2 linked regions of the Homo sapiens genome follow. The protein of the gene in region 2 binds, or shares a complex with, the protein of the main gene of each other region. Each region holds a gene or a part of one and is shown on either strand. Other genes may lie near its edges.

Region 1 (7,274 bases), on a different chromosome or scaffold from region 2:
TTATAAAACTTAGTTTCCACATCTGAAGGTTTGATAATGCCAATTTTGATCACGAAAGTATAAAGATAATTGGCCTTTTAAAAGAAAACAGAGATAAGAACTTTTCTCTATCATTTCTTTAGGTTGAAAGGACCTTTGTCTTTCACCTCTAAAATGCCATGATTAAAAACTGAACACAAAATATACAAAGAATTCCTATAATTTAACAACAAAAACCAAACAACCCAATTCATAAAAGGGCAGAGGACTTGAATAGACATTTGCCAAAGATGATAAACAAATGGCCAATAAGCACATGAAAAGATACACATCACTAGACATTAGGGAAATGCAAACCAAAACCACACTGAGACACAGATACCACTTCACACCCACTAGGATAGCGGTCCCCAACTTTTTTGGCACCAGGTCCTGGTTTCGTGGAAGACAATTTTTCCACAGACCAGTGTGAGGGTCAAGGATGGTTTCGGGATTGCATTATTTATGCACTTTACATTTATTGTGCACTTTATATTATTACATTATAATATATAATGAAATAATTATACAACTCACCATAAGTAGAATCAGTGAGAGCCCTTGTTTTCCTGCAACTGGATGATCCCATCTGGGGGTGATGGGAGACAGTTACAGATCATTAGGCATTAAATTCTCATAAGGAGCACACAACCTAGATCCCTCCCATGTGCAGTTCACAATACGGTCCGGGCTCCTATGAGAATCTAATGCCACCGCTGATCTGACAGGAGGCAGACCTCAGGTAATGCTCACTTGCCTGATGCTCACTTTCTGCTGTGTGGCCTGGTTCCTAACAGGTCACAAACAGATACCGGTCCATGACCCAGGGGTTGGGGATCCCTGCACTAGGATATCAATGATCAAAAAAGGGGATGGAGAATAGAAGCTGTTAGCCAGGATGTGGAATTGTTGGTAGGAATGTAAAATAGTGTAGTTGCTGTAGAAAACAGTTTGACAATTCCTCAAAAAGTTAAAAGAATTACCATATAATCCAGCAATTTCACTCCTGAGTATACACCCAAAAGAAGTGAAAGCAGCGAACTCCAACAAATACCTGTACACTAATCTTTAGAGCAGCATTACTTATAATAGCCAAACAACAAACACAACCCAAATGTCTACCAAGAAATGGATAAGCAAAATGTTGTAGGTACATAAAATGGAATATTATTCAGCCTTAAATAAAAATGGCCGTTCTGATATATGCTACAACATGGATGAACCTTGAAAACATTATGCTAAGTGAAATTAGCAAGACACAAAAGGACAAATGTTATATGATTCCACTTATATGAGGTACCTAGAATAATCAAATTCACGAAGATGGAAATTAGCACAGAGGTTTTCAGGGGCTGGGAGGAGCAGGCAATGAGGAGTTATTGTTTAATGAATAGTTTCTACTTCGGATAACGAAAACATTCTGGAAATAGACAGTGATGGTGGTTGCACAAAACTGTGAATGAATGTACTTAATGCCACTAAATTATATGCTTTAAAAATGATCAAAATGGTAACATTTATTTTTGTATATATTTTCCCACAATTTAAAATGTTAAGCAATATTATATACAACAACCCCATGAAACACTTAGGGACAAATTTAACAAAATACATACACTAAAAACTACAAAACAGTTCAGAGAGAAATTAAAAACCTAAATAAATGGAGAGACATGCCATGTTTACACTTTGGAAACCTCAATACAGTTGAGATGTCAATTCTCTCAAACTGATCTATAGATTCAAAATCTCAGCAAGACCTTTTTGTAGCAACAGGTAAGTTGATTATACAATATACATGGAAAGTTAAAGAACCTAGAAAAGCCAAAAGCAATTTTGAAAAAGAACAAATTTGTATGACTTTCATGATATGATTCCAAGACTTGCTACAAAGCTACAGTAACCATATTAAGGCCACATGAGATATTACTACACACCCACTAGAATGGCAATAACTCACATTTAGAAGACCTACAATATGAAGTATTGGCAAGGATGTGGAGAAACTGAATTTTCATCTATTGAGGTGGAAATATACATCACTAGAACACAACAGACTTCATATACAGCCTACTGGTTTTCAACAAAGTTCCAAATGTACTAAATGGAGAAAGGAGAGTCTTCAATATAATGCTGGAACAACCACATGGGAAAAAATGAACCTTGACCTTTGCCACACACTACCCACAAAAAAATAGCTAAAAATCTACCATGACCTAAACATAAAACTATACAACACATCTAGAAAAAAAAAAAAAAAAGAACTCTTCATTATCTTGAGATAGGCAAATATTTCTTAGACAAAAAGCACTAACCATAAAAGAAAAAAAAATGTACAAACTGAACATCAAAACTAGAAGTTTCTACTCTTTGAAAGATACTATTAAGGAAACCAAAAGGCAAGGCACAGTCAGAGAGAAAATATTCATAATTAATATTCTTCACAAAGGACTTATATCCAGATTATATAAAAATTTCCAAATCAGTAAGAAGACAATTGATCCCCCCAAAAATAGACTAAGTAGTTGGACACATGACAAAAGAAGATACAGGATGGCCAATAGACATACTAAAAGATGCTCAACATCACTAGTCATTAGGGAAATACAATTTAATGCCACATGGGACACCCACAAGAGGCTATTATTCAAAAGACCTCCAATACCAAGTGTTGGCACAGATGTGGAGAAACTGAATTTTCATATTGCTGTGTGAATGTCGATGGTACAGTCACTTCAAAAAACAGCTGGGCAGTTTCTTAGGAAGTTAAGCATATACTTTCCTTACTACTCTTAGGCAGCAACTCCTCTCTCAGGTAGCTACCCAAGAAACATGAAAATATATGTGTATACAGAATCTTGTACATGAATGTTCTCAGCAGCATCATTCACAATAGCCAAAAAGTAAAAATTACCCAAATGTCCATCAAGAAGTGAATGTATAAAAATGAAATACTATTCAGCAGTAATAAGGAAATTACTAATATACACAATAACATGGGTGAATCTCAAATATGTTACGCTGAGCAAGAGAAGCCAGATTAAAATGACTACATAAGAGTCCATTTACATGAAATTCTAGAAGAGATAAAAATTAATCTATAGTGACAATAAGCAGATCAGTGATTGTCTGGGGCCATGGTTGTGGGGACAGACAGGCTGCAAAGGGAAATGAAAGGCATTCTGGGGGCGACAGAAATGTTCTATATCATGATTACCATGGTGGTTCATGAATGTAACGCATCCAAGCACATACTTAAAATAAGTGTGTTTACTCTCTGAAAACTAAATTTCAATAAAGTTGATTTTCAAAAAATATCAGTGCAGAGTATTCCAACCAGGGTTGCACAAGACTTCTGATCCTCTCTCCTCAGTCTCATCCGGGCAGCAGGGGATAGTGTGGATGATACATACATGGAGATGGCAGCTGGAGCCAACTTTCTCTGTTTATCTCAGTGTACTGTACATTATTGAAATTTTCTGTAGATGCTATAAAAGTTAGAAAGCAATGGCCTAAGAATGTTTTAATGTAGATTCCCAACCCTGGTCAAACATCGAGATAAAAATTCTATACCTTAAGCACACTTATCAATTTTGATCTTGGTGCCTTCTGTCTCTTTAGAAAGTTGTATAAGTAGATATGGGCATTTGGATTTGATGGAAACTTTTCATCATATGCATAATTGGTGAGTACCTCTTGGGCTCCATCTCGATCCCCATAGAATTCCAGCATCTATATAAAATAAATCATAATATCTTAGCTGAATTCTGTAAGACAGCTATACGAAAAATAATACACAGCATAAGTTTACTGATGGGTATTTTTTAAAAATCACAAAACTGACAGGGTTCCCATTTTTTCCCTGTATTTTGTTACTACTAATAAACAATGCAGCAACCTCAACATAAATTCTCTTCCTATAAAAAATAAGAGTCCTCAAAGCAGGGAACACTAATGCTCGAAAATGTGATGCAGCTAACCTCAGTGCCCTACATCACTGCAGCCACAAAAGGAGTGCATGAGAATTGTAATTCCTTTCATCCTGTTCCCATCCTTACACAGGAATCTCCAGATTATGATTTTGGAGATTATCTTCTGACAACACAATTATCAACTTGCCACTCATTAACTTTCACAAAGCAAATTATTTTGAAGATTTATTCCTAGTGCCTAGCACCAAGGCCCTCAGTCCTTTTACAATGACTCTGGGATGACAGGACATTCTTATGAACTTCCAAAAAGCCATCATTCTTCACCTCATATAGTATGACCCATTTTTTCAGATTTTTGTCCTCTTTCCTTCTATATCCCACCAAATCATAAGGTATCTTACTGCATTTCTTTTAAGCTCAACAAGAATAAGATTGAATTAACATTTACAACTATACTGCTATTTATTTTATAGATACTTGGCCACGACGGGTTATACAGTGGTGAAAATAAACAAATTCAGACCAAAAAAGAGACACCGTATTTTTGCTTTCTTTTAAATAATTTTTTCCATTAGTTTCTTTCTGATCAATAAAGATTAGGCATGCAGTCTTTGTATAGGCTTTTGACAAAATAAAACCAATAAATTTAATGAAAATTCTACTTACTTCTACATAACTCTTCACAAAAGGGTCCCAAACTCCAGGAATTTTAATCAATGCAGAAATATTTGCAGATGTCTTCCAGCTGTGGTTGAACACATCCTGGGCTACTGCATTGTAAGCATAATCATCCTTATCTGCCCAAAGATACAAGATCTTTTAACATTCATTAAACATTGAGGACCTCTGTTAAATTAGTAATTTAAAAAACTATCTGCGAGAAAAACTCAGTTGCTGATAGCTACAACAGTAAATTCCAACAAATATTTAAAGGAAAATACTAATTCTTCACAAATTCTCCCAAAAAAAGGACAGAAAAGAATACTTCCTAACTTATTCTAAGCCAGTATTACCATGATACCAAAACCAAAGACAACACAATAAAACTACAGATCAGTATCTCTTAAGAATATAGCTGCAAAAATCTTTAACAAAAATACTAGCAAACTGAGTCCAACAACATATAAAAAGCATTATACATCATGTCCAAGTCGGATCTATACTAGGAATGCAAGGTTGGCTTAACATCTGAAAATCAATTAATGCAAATAATAAAATAGAGATCTATTGATCTAAACCAAATCAAAAGAATACAGGACCAAAACCTCATGATCATCACAATAGACACAGAAAAAGCATCTGAAAAAACACAATAACCCTTCATGATAAAAAGACTCAACAATGTAGGAACAGAAGGAACTTCCTCAATCTGATAAAGGGCATCTATGAAAAACTCATAGCTAACATTGAACTGAATGATAAAAGACTGCATGCTTTCCCCCTAAAATCAGTAATAAGACAAAAATGTCTTTTCTCACTACTTTTGTTCATTATATTGGTGGTTCCAGCCAGGACAATTAAGCAAGAACATAACAAAAAGATATCCAAGATTGGAAAGGAAGAAGTAAAACTATCTCTATTTGCAGATGACATGGTCTTGTACACAGAAAAATCCTAAGAACCCACTAAAAATTTACTGAACTAATAAATGAGTTCACAAAGGTTGCAGAGTACAAGATCAATACACAATAATCAACTGTATGTCTATACACTTGCAATGAACAAGCAGAAGATAAAATTAGGAAAACAATGCCATTTGCAAAAGCATCAAAAGTAACAAAATGGGTAGAAATTTTACAAAAGAGATGCAAAATTTTACTCTGAAAAGTGATACTGTTGAAAAAAAATTTTTTAAGACCTAAATGAATGAAAAGACACTCTGTGTTCAGTTGAAAGACTTACTATTGTCAAATTGATCTACAGATACATGTAATTCCTATCAAAAACTCGGCCTTTTTGCATAAGTTGACAGGCTGATTCTATAATTCATACGAAAATGCAAGGGACCAAAGAAGAACAAAGAATCTTTAAAAAGGACAAAGTTGGATAATGTACTCTATGACTATGGCCAGGCATGGTGGCTCACACCTATAATCCCAGCACTTTGGGAGGCCGATGTGGGTGGATCACCTGAGGTCAGGAGTTCGAGACCAGCCTGACCAACAAGGTGAAACCCCGTCTCTACTAAAAGTACGAAAAAATTAGCTGGGCGTGGTGGCACACGCCTGTAGTCCCAGCTACTCAGGAGGCTGAGGCACAGGAATCGCTTGAACCTGGAAGACACAGATTGCAGTGAGCTGAGATCCTGCCACTATACTCCAGCATGGGCAACACAGCAAGACTCAGTCTCAAAAAAAAAAAAAAAAAAAGTACTACAAAGCTGTAGTAATCAAGACTGTGTGATATGGGCAGAAAGAGAGACACATGTAGATCAATGGAAGATTTAGAGTCCAGAAGTAAACCTCTACATTTATAGGTAACTAATTTTCTTTTGTGTGTGTGTAAGACAGGGCCTTACTTTGTCTCCCAGGCTGGACTGCAGTGGCATGATTTCAGCTTACTGAAGCCTCACTCTACCTCCTGGGCTCAAGTGAACCTCTCACCTCAGCCACTCAAGTAGCCAGGACTACAGGCACACGCTACCACACTCAGCTAATTTTTGTATTTTTTGTAGAGATGCAGTTTCACCATGTTGCCCAGGTTGGTTTCGAACTCCTGAGGGCTCATGCGATCTACCTGTCTTGGCCTCCCAAAGTGCTAGGATTACAGGCATGGCCACTGCTCCCGGCTGCTAACTAATTTTCAGTAAGGGTGCCAAGACAATTCAGTGGGAAAATAATAGACTTTTCAATAAATGCTACAACTGGATATCCACATACAAAATAATAAAGTTGGGCCCCTACCTACTTCATAAAAATTAACTCAAAGGCCAAAATATAAGAGCTAAAACTTTAAAACTCTCAGAAGAAGTGAAAATCTTTGCGACCTTGCAGTAGGCAACAGCTTCTTAGATGTGATACCAAAACCACAAGCAACAAAAGAAGAAACAGTTAAATTAAACCTCATCAAATGAAACACTTTTATGCTTCAAAGGACACCATCAAGATAGTGAAAAGAAGGCCAGGCACAGTGGCTCACATCTGTAATTCCAACACTTTGGGAGGCTGAGGTGGGCAGATCACTTGAGGTCAGGAGTTCGAGACCAGCCTGGCCAACATGGTGAAACCCCATTTCTACTAAAAACACAAAAATTAGCTGGGCGTGGTGGCAGGCACCTCTAATCCCACCTACTCGGGAGGCTGAGGCAGGAGAATCACTTGAACC
Region 2 (8,034 bases):
TTTTCTTGTATAATGCTCAGAGTTTCCTTTAAATCTTTTTAAAAACTTGGCAGCCTTAGTCTTAGCTGTGCTTTGGGAAAATAAGGAGCTGCACTCAAGCTTAAGAAGATATTGCTGGAAGTGTACATTGGCACAGCCTTCAAAAAGCTTCTTGGTGCCCTCCTGTAACCCAATCGACACTGGCTAGAGAGATGAGGTCATATTGCATCAAATGGCTTCCAGTGATTCTTTGCTGTGGACAAGAAAGTTGCTCTTTTTTTTTGAGAGGGAGTTTTGATGCCTAGGCTGGAGTGCAATGGCAGTGATCTCGGCTCACTGCAACCTCTGCCTCCCAGGTTCAAGTGATTCTCCTGCCTCAGCCTCCCAAGTAGCTGGGATTACAGGCATGTGCCACCATGCCAGGCTAATTTTGTATTTTTAGTAGAGACAGGGTTTTTCCATGTTGGTCAGGCTGGTCTCGAACTCCCGACCTCAGGTGATCCACCCACCTTGGCCTCCAAAAGTGCTGGGATTACAGGCGTGAGCCACCATGCCCGGCCAAGAAGGTCACTCTTTATGCTCAACAAATGTATTGCAAATGGCTGAAAGGTAGGGAGGATCCAGATGAACAATTTCTAAATAGAAAAACTAATAGTAGCCAGACACGATGGCTCACACCTGTAATCCCAGCATTTTAGGAGGTCAAGGTAGGCAGATCACCTGAGGTCAGGCATTTGAGACCAGCCTGGGCAACATGGAGAAACCCCATCTCTACTAAAAATACAAAAATTAGCCAGGTGTGGTGGCGGGCACATGTAGTCCCAGCTACTCAGGAGGCTGAGGCAGGAGAATCGCTTGAACCCGGGAGGCAGAGGTTGCAGTGAGCTGAGCTTGTGCCACTGTACCCCAGCCTGGGCAACAGAGTGAGACTCTGTCTCAAAAAAAAAAAAAAAAAATCATAGATATCCAATTTGTTCCTTTCTCCTTTCCTAAAAGCTTTTGGTGCCCCCTCCAACCCAACAGTTCCACCCTAGAAAAACACTTGTACACATACATCAGGACATGATACAAGAATATTCAGGCTGGTCGCGGTGGCTCATGCCTATAATCTCAGCATTTTGGGAGGCCGAGGTGGGAGGACGGCGGGAGATCATGCCACTGCACTCCAGCCTGGGCAACAGAGGGAGACTCCGTCTCAAAAAAAAAAAAAAAAAAAAAGCATAATGTTGAAAACAAACAGCAGTATAATACAGCATGGAGATAACTTTATAAAATGCAAAGACAAATAAAAGTAAATATAGTGCATTGTTTAGGAGTATAAATATGATAATTATTCAAAGAAAACTAAAATGACTTTTAAAAATCATGATGGTGACTATTTTTGGGAGGAAAGCAGGTAGAAGGTGGGATCCGAGAGCAGCACAGAGTAAGTGTCAATTGTCCTAGTTAATGTTCGGCTTCTTAAATTGGGCGATATGTTCACAGGTGTTCATTATGTTCTTTTTTTTTTTTTTGGAGACGGAGTCTCACTCTGTCACCCAGGCTGGGGTGCAGTGGCGCGATCTCGGCTCACTGCAAGCTCCACCTCTCGGGTTCATGCCATTCTCCTGCCTCAGCTTCCCAAGTAGCTGGGATTACAAGTGCCTGCCACCACGCCCGGCACATTTTTTTTTTTTTTTTTTTTTTTTGTATTTTTAGTAGAGACGGGGTTTCACCGCATTAGCCAGGATGGTCTCGATCTCCTGACCTCGTGATCCGCCTGCCTCGGCCTCCCAAAGTGCTGGGATTACAGGCAGGAGCCGCTGTGTCTGGCCCATTATGTTCTTATAACTTACATTAACATATTATTTTGTACATATCAAGCTTTTTTTCCCTTTTTTTTTTTAAGAGATGAGATTTTGCTTTGTCACCCAGGCCAGAGAGTGTCGTGGTGTAGTCATAGCTCACTGCAGCTTCCAACTCCTGGGTTCAAGTGATTCTCCCACCTCTGTCTCCCAAATAATTGGAACTACAGGCACGTGCCACCATGCCTGGGTAAGTTTTTTAAAAGTGTTATTTGTAGAGACGGAGTCTGGCTGTGTTGCCTGGGCTGGTCTCAAACTCCTGGCTTCAAGTTATCCTCCTGCCTCAGCCTCCCAAAGCTCTGGCATTACAGGTGTGAGTCACTGCACCCAGACTCAGACTTTTTTTAAGGGAAAGAATGGGAGTGTAGGTGGGGAGACACACTTTGGGAGGCCAAGGTGGGAGGATCACTTGGGCCGGGGGTTCAAGACCAGCCTGGGCAACAAAGTGAGACCTCGTATTTACCAAAAATACAAAAAATTAGCTGGGCTTGGTGGTGTGGGTTCGGGCGGCTGAGGTGAGAGGATTGCATAAGCTGTAGGAGCCCGAGGCTGCAACGAGCCATGATCGCGCCATTGCGCTCTAACTTGGGCTAGACAATGAGATCCTGTCTCAAACCAAAACAAAACAAAACAGATAATTGTCAGATTGCTGTTTTGCTATTGTTGCTTTTTGTTTTTGCTTTGCTTTCCCTTGGAAGTGAAGAAGAGATTCTCATTTAAACAGTTATCTTGAAGTATCTTTGTGAGCTACGGTGCAATTATTTCCTCTGTCCTTGAGACACAGATGATTCCTGTCCAACATTCCCAAGGAACTCAGTAAGGACCAAATAGAGACTCAGGAAAGACAGTTACTGATTTTACACTGTTGCAAAACAGAGCTATGGTTTATGTTTAACAAACTGCTGGCGGGGCGTGGTGGCTCATGCCTGTAATCCCAGCACTTTGGGATGCCAAGGCGGGCGGATCACTTGAGGTCAAGAGTTTGAGACCAGCCTGGCCAACATGGTGAAACCCTGTCTCTACTAAAAATACAAAAATTAGCTGGGCATGGTGGCGCATGCCTGTAATCCTAGCTACTGGGGAGGCTGAGGCACAAGAATCGCTTGAACCTGGGAAGCAGAGGATGCAGTGAGCCAAGATCATGACACTGTACTCCAGCCTGGGTGACAGAGCGAGACTCTGTCTCAAAAAAAAAACAAAAAACAAAAAAACCAAATTGCTGTATTTTATGTTGTGAAATAGGGTCTTGCTGTGTTGTCCAGGCTGGAGTGCAGGGGTACAATCACAGCTCACTGCAGCCTTGACCTCCAGGGCTCAAGTGATCCTCCGTCCTCAGTTTTCAAGTAGCTGGGACTACAGGTATGCACCACCATATGTTGCCCAGGCTGGTCTTGAACTCCTGGAGAGAGATACATATAAACACACACACACACACACACACACACACACACCTTTTTTTTTTTTGAGACACAGTTTCACTCGTCACCCAGGCTGGAGTGCAATGGCACGATCTTGGCTCACTGCAACCTCTGCCTCCTGGGTTCAAACTATTCTCCTGCCTCGGCCTCCCAAGTAGCTGGGATTACAGGCACTGCCACCATGCCTGGCTAATTTTGTATTTTTAGTAGAGACAGGGTTTTGTCATGTTGGCCAGGCTGGTCTCAAACTTCTGGCCTCAGGTGATCCACTTGCCTCGGCCTCCCAAAGTGTTGGGATAACAGGCGTGAGCCACTGCGCCGGGCCCATACATATGCATTTTTAAAAACTTATTTATTTATTTCGAGACAGGGTCTCACTCTGTTGCCCAAGCAGGAGTGCAGTGGTGCTATCTCCCAGGCTCAAGCAATCCTCAGCCTCCCGAGTAGCTGGGACTACAGGTGTGTGCCACCACACCCAGATAATTTTTATTATTTTTATTTTTTAAATTTTTTGTAGAGATGGAGTTTCACCGTGTCACCCAGGCTGGATATTTTTGTATTTTTGATAGGCCTGTACAGTTTCCAAAGTTGCAACCTTTTCCCCTCCCTGAGAGTAGGGGCAGCCCCTGCTCTCCCTCTACATCCTCCACAGTCCCGAGGTTTTGGCCTCTGTTTCCTCCGTTTCCTATGCTTGGAACGCCAGTGGCTCTTTTGTTGGTCTGGCTGACTCCTGTTCCTCTTTTAAAAATTTAAGTTTGGCCGGGCGTGGTGGCTCATGCTTGTAATCCCAGCACTTTGGGAGGCCGAGGCGGGCGGATGACCTGAGGTCATGAGTTCGAGACCAGCCTGGCCAACACAGTGCAACCCCGTCTCCACTAAAAATACGAAAATTAGCCGGGTGTGGTGGCATGCGCCTGTAATCCCAGCTACTTGGGAGGCTGAGGCACGAGAATTGCTGGAACTGGGGAGGCGGAGGTTGCAGTGAGCTGAGATCACACCACTGCACTCCACCTGGGCAAAAGGGCAAGACTCGGCCTCAAAAGAAAATAAATAAATAAATAAATAAAGTCAAGGGGGTAACACCTCTTCGTAACTCTCCTGTTGTTTCTCATGCCAGCATCACCATAGCCTTGAGGCTCTGAGGTAGGTCACTTCGTCGAGCTCGTTTCCGTGAGGATAACGTTATCTTGGGTGTCTGTGAGACTGCTGCACTGAGTATAGAGCCCAGGCTCCTGGGTCAGCCGGGTTCGAATCCCCTTTCCTCCGTGAAGATCTGGGTCAGTCACAAGTGCTTCAGTTTCTTCGATTTGACTGAGGGAGGCTTTGACTCCAAAAAATTAACACTTGAGTGTACCCGGCCACAGCTTAGCACATCCAGGGTGTTTCCACCCTTTCTTCGGGATCCTCAGGGCTGGATGGAGCCGGTCCTTCCCGTCTCTCCTTATACTCACGCACTAGCGCTGGCTGGAACAAGTCCTCCAAGTAGAACGAGGAGCGGGTTTCAGCGGCGCTCTAGCCCGCCGAGAGCATACGCCCTCCCCACGCGGGGCCGCTGATTGGCTGAAGGTTGCGCTGGCACGCGCAACTTCCGGGACAGAGGCTGTGGCTGGAAGGAGCTGGGCATCCGGCCTGAGGCGCAGCGGTCGCGTTAGTTCGGCCCAATGGCGGCACCGCTGCTTCACACGCGTTTGCCGGGAGATGCGGCCGCTTCGTCCTCTGCAGTTAAGAAGCTGGGCGCGTCGAGGACTGGGTAAGATTCAGGCCGCTTCCTTCTGCGTATCTGGGACGAAAGCTCAGGACGGCGCTTAGAGGAGCGGATTGAAAGGATGTGGGACAAAGCTCATGGCGTGTGATAGGAGCACGGGGTGGAGGGTCATCTCACGTTCACAGAAATGAGCTCATTCCTCCTAACTGGGTAATAGACATGGGTGGGGCCTGGAAAAGTGACTATGTTCTCTGTTCTGGAGGCCCCCTTTCCCGACTGTGTCTCTTCGTGATTTCCCAGGCCTGGGTACTGCCTTCTGCGCCTTGACCCCTCTTCCTTCCCTCTTCTTCGTCCAAATTTGGAAGGGATTTCCCTGGGCTATGTGGGTTATCAGCCGAACGTCGTCACTCATGGCAAATTGAATATTACATCTTTTTTGTTTGGAATTTGTTTCGACACACGTATTTGTTTCGCAGTCTTTATTTTGCTCCACTTTTAAAATCCCTAACCCCCGTAGCACTCTTGGCGTTTAACTTTCAGAGTCATTAGGATGCTATGTTTTTTCATTAATTTACTACGTGTAAGTGAAGCAAACCTTGTAAAACAATTAGCGTAATATGATTCATAATAATTATCGAGCTCCTGCTTACTGTGTTAAACACTGGGGACAGTGGTTTATCCAAAGACACTAATGTCCCTGCTTTCTACAGAGCTTACAGCATAGGGGGGAAAGGCAGTACATAGGCCAATAAATAAACGAACACGATGATTTCAGTTATACAACAAGGTAATGGGGGAGGGAGAAGGGAGAGAAGGAGCTTTTGAGATTTCTCATTGGGAAGACATCTGTCATTTGAGCTTCCACTTGAATGAAGACAAAAATCTAGGCCGGGCGCGGTTGCTCACGCCTGTAATCCCAGCACTTTGGGAGGCCGAGGCGGGCGGATCATCTGAAGTCAGGAGTTGGAGACCAGCCTGGCCAACGTGCGAAACCTCGTCTCTACTGAAAATACAAAAATCAGCCGGGCATGGTGGCAGGTGCCTGTAATCCCAGCTACTCAGGAGGCTGAGGCAGGATAATTGCTTGAACCCGGGAGATGGAGGTTGCAGTTAAGCCAAGATCACACCACTGCACTCCAGCCTGGGCAGCAGAGCAAGACTCCATCTCAAAAAAAAAAATCCAGCCACGTAGAGATTTGGGAAAAGAGTATTTCCAATAGAGTGAACAGTAAGTGAAATGAAAAACAGCTTGGCTTGTTTGAAGAGCAGAAAAGACGTTATGGCTGTAGTAAAACAAGTTGTTGGAGATGAGGTGAGAGAGGTAGGCAGGGGCCAGATTAATGTAGGATCTTAAAGACCACACTGAGAGATTTGGATTTTTACTGTAAGTGCAGTGGGAAGACAGTTATTGGTTGCTGAGCAAAGGAAGGATTGTTGGTTAAGAGTGGAAGCAGGGAGACCAGTAAAGAGGCCTTAACAATAGTTCCACTGAATTATGTTGGTTCAATAAATGTTGGCTATTATAATTTTTATTATTTTCATGAACTTAATAGCTTGTTAATCTTGGTTCCACAGGATTTCAAATATGCGTGCATTAGAGAATGACTTTTTCAATTCTCCCCCAAGAAAAACTGTTCGGTTTGGTGGAACTGTGACAGAAGTCTTGCTGAAGTACAAAAAGGTAAGGGGAGATAATGTGTGAGGTTTGCTTTTGGTTAGGTCAGAATACAACTATTGCTGTTATACTAAAGACCAATAGAAATAGCAAGATTAATTAAGATACCAGTTGAAATCAAATATTTAATAATAGCATGATGCCGTCAGTGCAAAATTAGAGTAATAGTGTCCTTTTTTTCCCCCACCTTGGCCCATTTCACAGGTAATAATGAGAGAGTAATAATGTCTTTACTGAGGTTTCACCTCTTCAAATGCTTTATTTACGAAGCATCTTTTAACTTTAGCAAGTGCCAGAATTAAAAACAATTACACCATTTTATTTATTTATTTATTTGTGCTGGAGTCTTCCTCTGTCACCCAGGCTGGAGTGCAGTGGCGTGACCTCGGCTCACTGCATCCTCCACCTCCCAGGTTCAAGCAATTCTCCTGCCTCAGTCTTCCGAATAGGTGGGGTTACAGGCACACACCACCACACCTGGCTAATTTTTTTATTTTTTTAGTAGAGGCAGGGTTTCACCATGTTGGCCAGGCTGGTCTCGAACTCCTGACCTTGTGATCCACCCGCCTTGGCCTCCCAAAGTGCTGGGATTACAGACGTGAGCCACCATGCCTGGCCTACAGCATTTTATTTTTTGAGGAACTTACCTAAGCATTACTTTGGGACAGTAAACCAGTTCTCTGAGTAGGGATTTTTGTTTTTGTGGTAGTTTAGAAGCATTTCTACTGTATCTCAGCAGTAGAGGGAAAATGTTAAGTAACCATATGTTTATATGTAATATCCATTTGTATCCATATTTGAGTGAATACTTTTTTAGATCCTCCTGAATTAGATCATTATAGCTGGCTGTTTTTTTCCCTCATGCTTTTTGAGAATTCGCAGGAGTATCAACTATTATATTCAAATGTCAATACAGAAGTATAGCTAAATGTAGTTTATCATTTTCCTTTTTCCAAGCCCTCTGGCTGCACTAACATGAGTGTTTAAATTTTTGTAGTCATGATTTTATAATCCGCAATTGACATGTGAAAGTTAGTGTTCCTTTTATAATTTCATCTGATGTTAAAGTACGGTTAAAAGTCTTGCTGTTGATACTAAACAGGAAACAAAAGCATAACTTAATTCTTTCCCCTTCTTGTTAAGGGTGAAACAAATGACTTTGAGTTGTTGAAGAACCAGCTGTTAGATCCAGACATAAAGGTAATTAATTTTGTGTTTGATCATTAGCAAAATTATTGCCACTGTATACAGACATAGTTTGCTCTTTGGGTCCCATTCTGTCCTCCAGAACTTGCTCTCTCCATGGTCCTCCCTTATTTTAATCTGGTGGTTCTCAACCAGGGACAGTTTTACCCCCTAGAAGACATTTGGTGATGGCTGCAGATATTTTTGTCACAACTGGGAGGAAAGGGT

Evidence for each region.
Region 1: RRN3 (region 2) and TAF1A share a complex: the UniProt entries of both Homo sapiens proteins name them as parts of the pol I pre-initiation complex.

Annotation. Positions count from the first base shown.
Region 1 is NC_000001.11:222,565,919-222,573,192, forward strand, and holds part of TAF1A (TATA box-binding protein-associated factor RNA polymerase I subunit A), read right to left. Parts: intron 4,748-7,274; coding exon 4,617-4,747; intron 3,751-4,616; coding exon 3,592-3,750; intron 3,507-3,591; coding exon of another isoform or gene 3,465-3,506; exon of another isoform or gene 1,507-3,464; intron 608-1,506; coding exon of another isoform or gene 556-607; intron 1-555. UniProt on the Homo sapiens protein: Component of the transcription factor SL1/TIF-IB complex, which is involved in the assembly of the PIC (pre-initiation complex) during RNA polymerase I-dependent transcription.
Region 2 is NC_000016.10:15,091,102-15,099,135, reverse strand, and holds the start of RRN3 (RNA polymerase I-specific transcription initiation factor RRN3), read left to right. Parts: upstream 1-4,863; 5' UTR 4,864-4,902; coding exon 4,903-4,991; intron 4,992-6,521; coding exon 6,522-6,627; intron 6,628-7,764; coding exon 7,765-7,821; intron 7,822-8,034. UniProt on the Homo sapiens protein: Required for efficient transcription initiation by RNA polymerase I (Pol I). Required for the formation of the competent pre-initiation complex (PIC).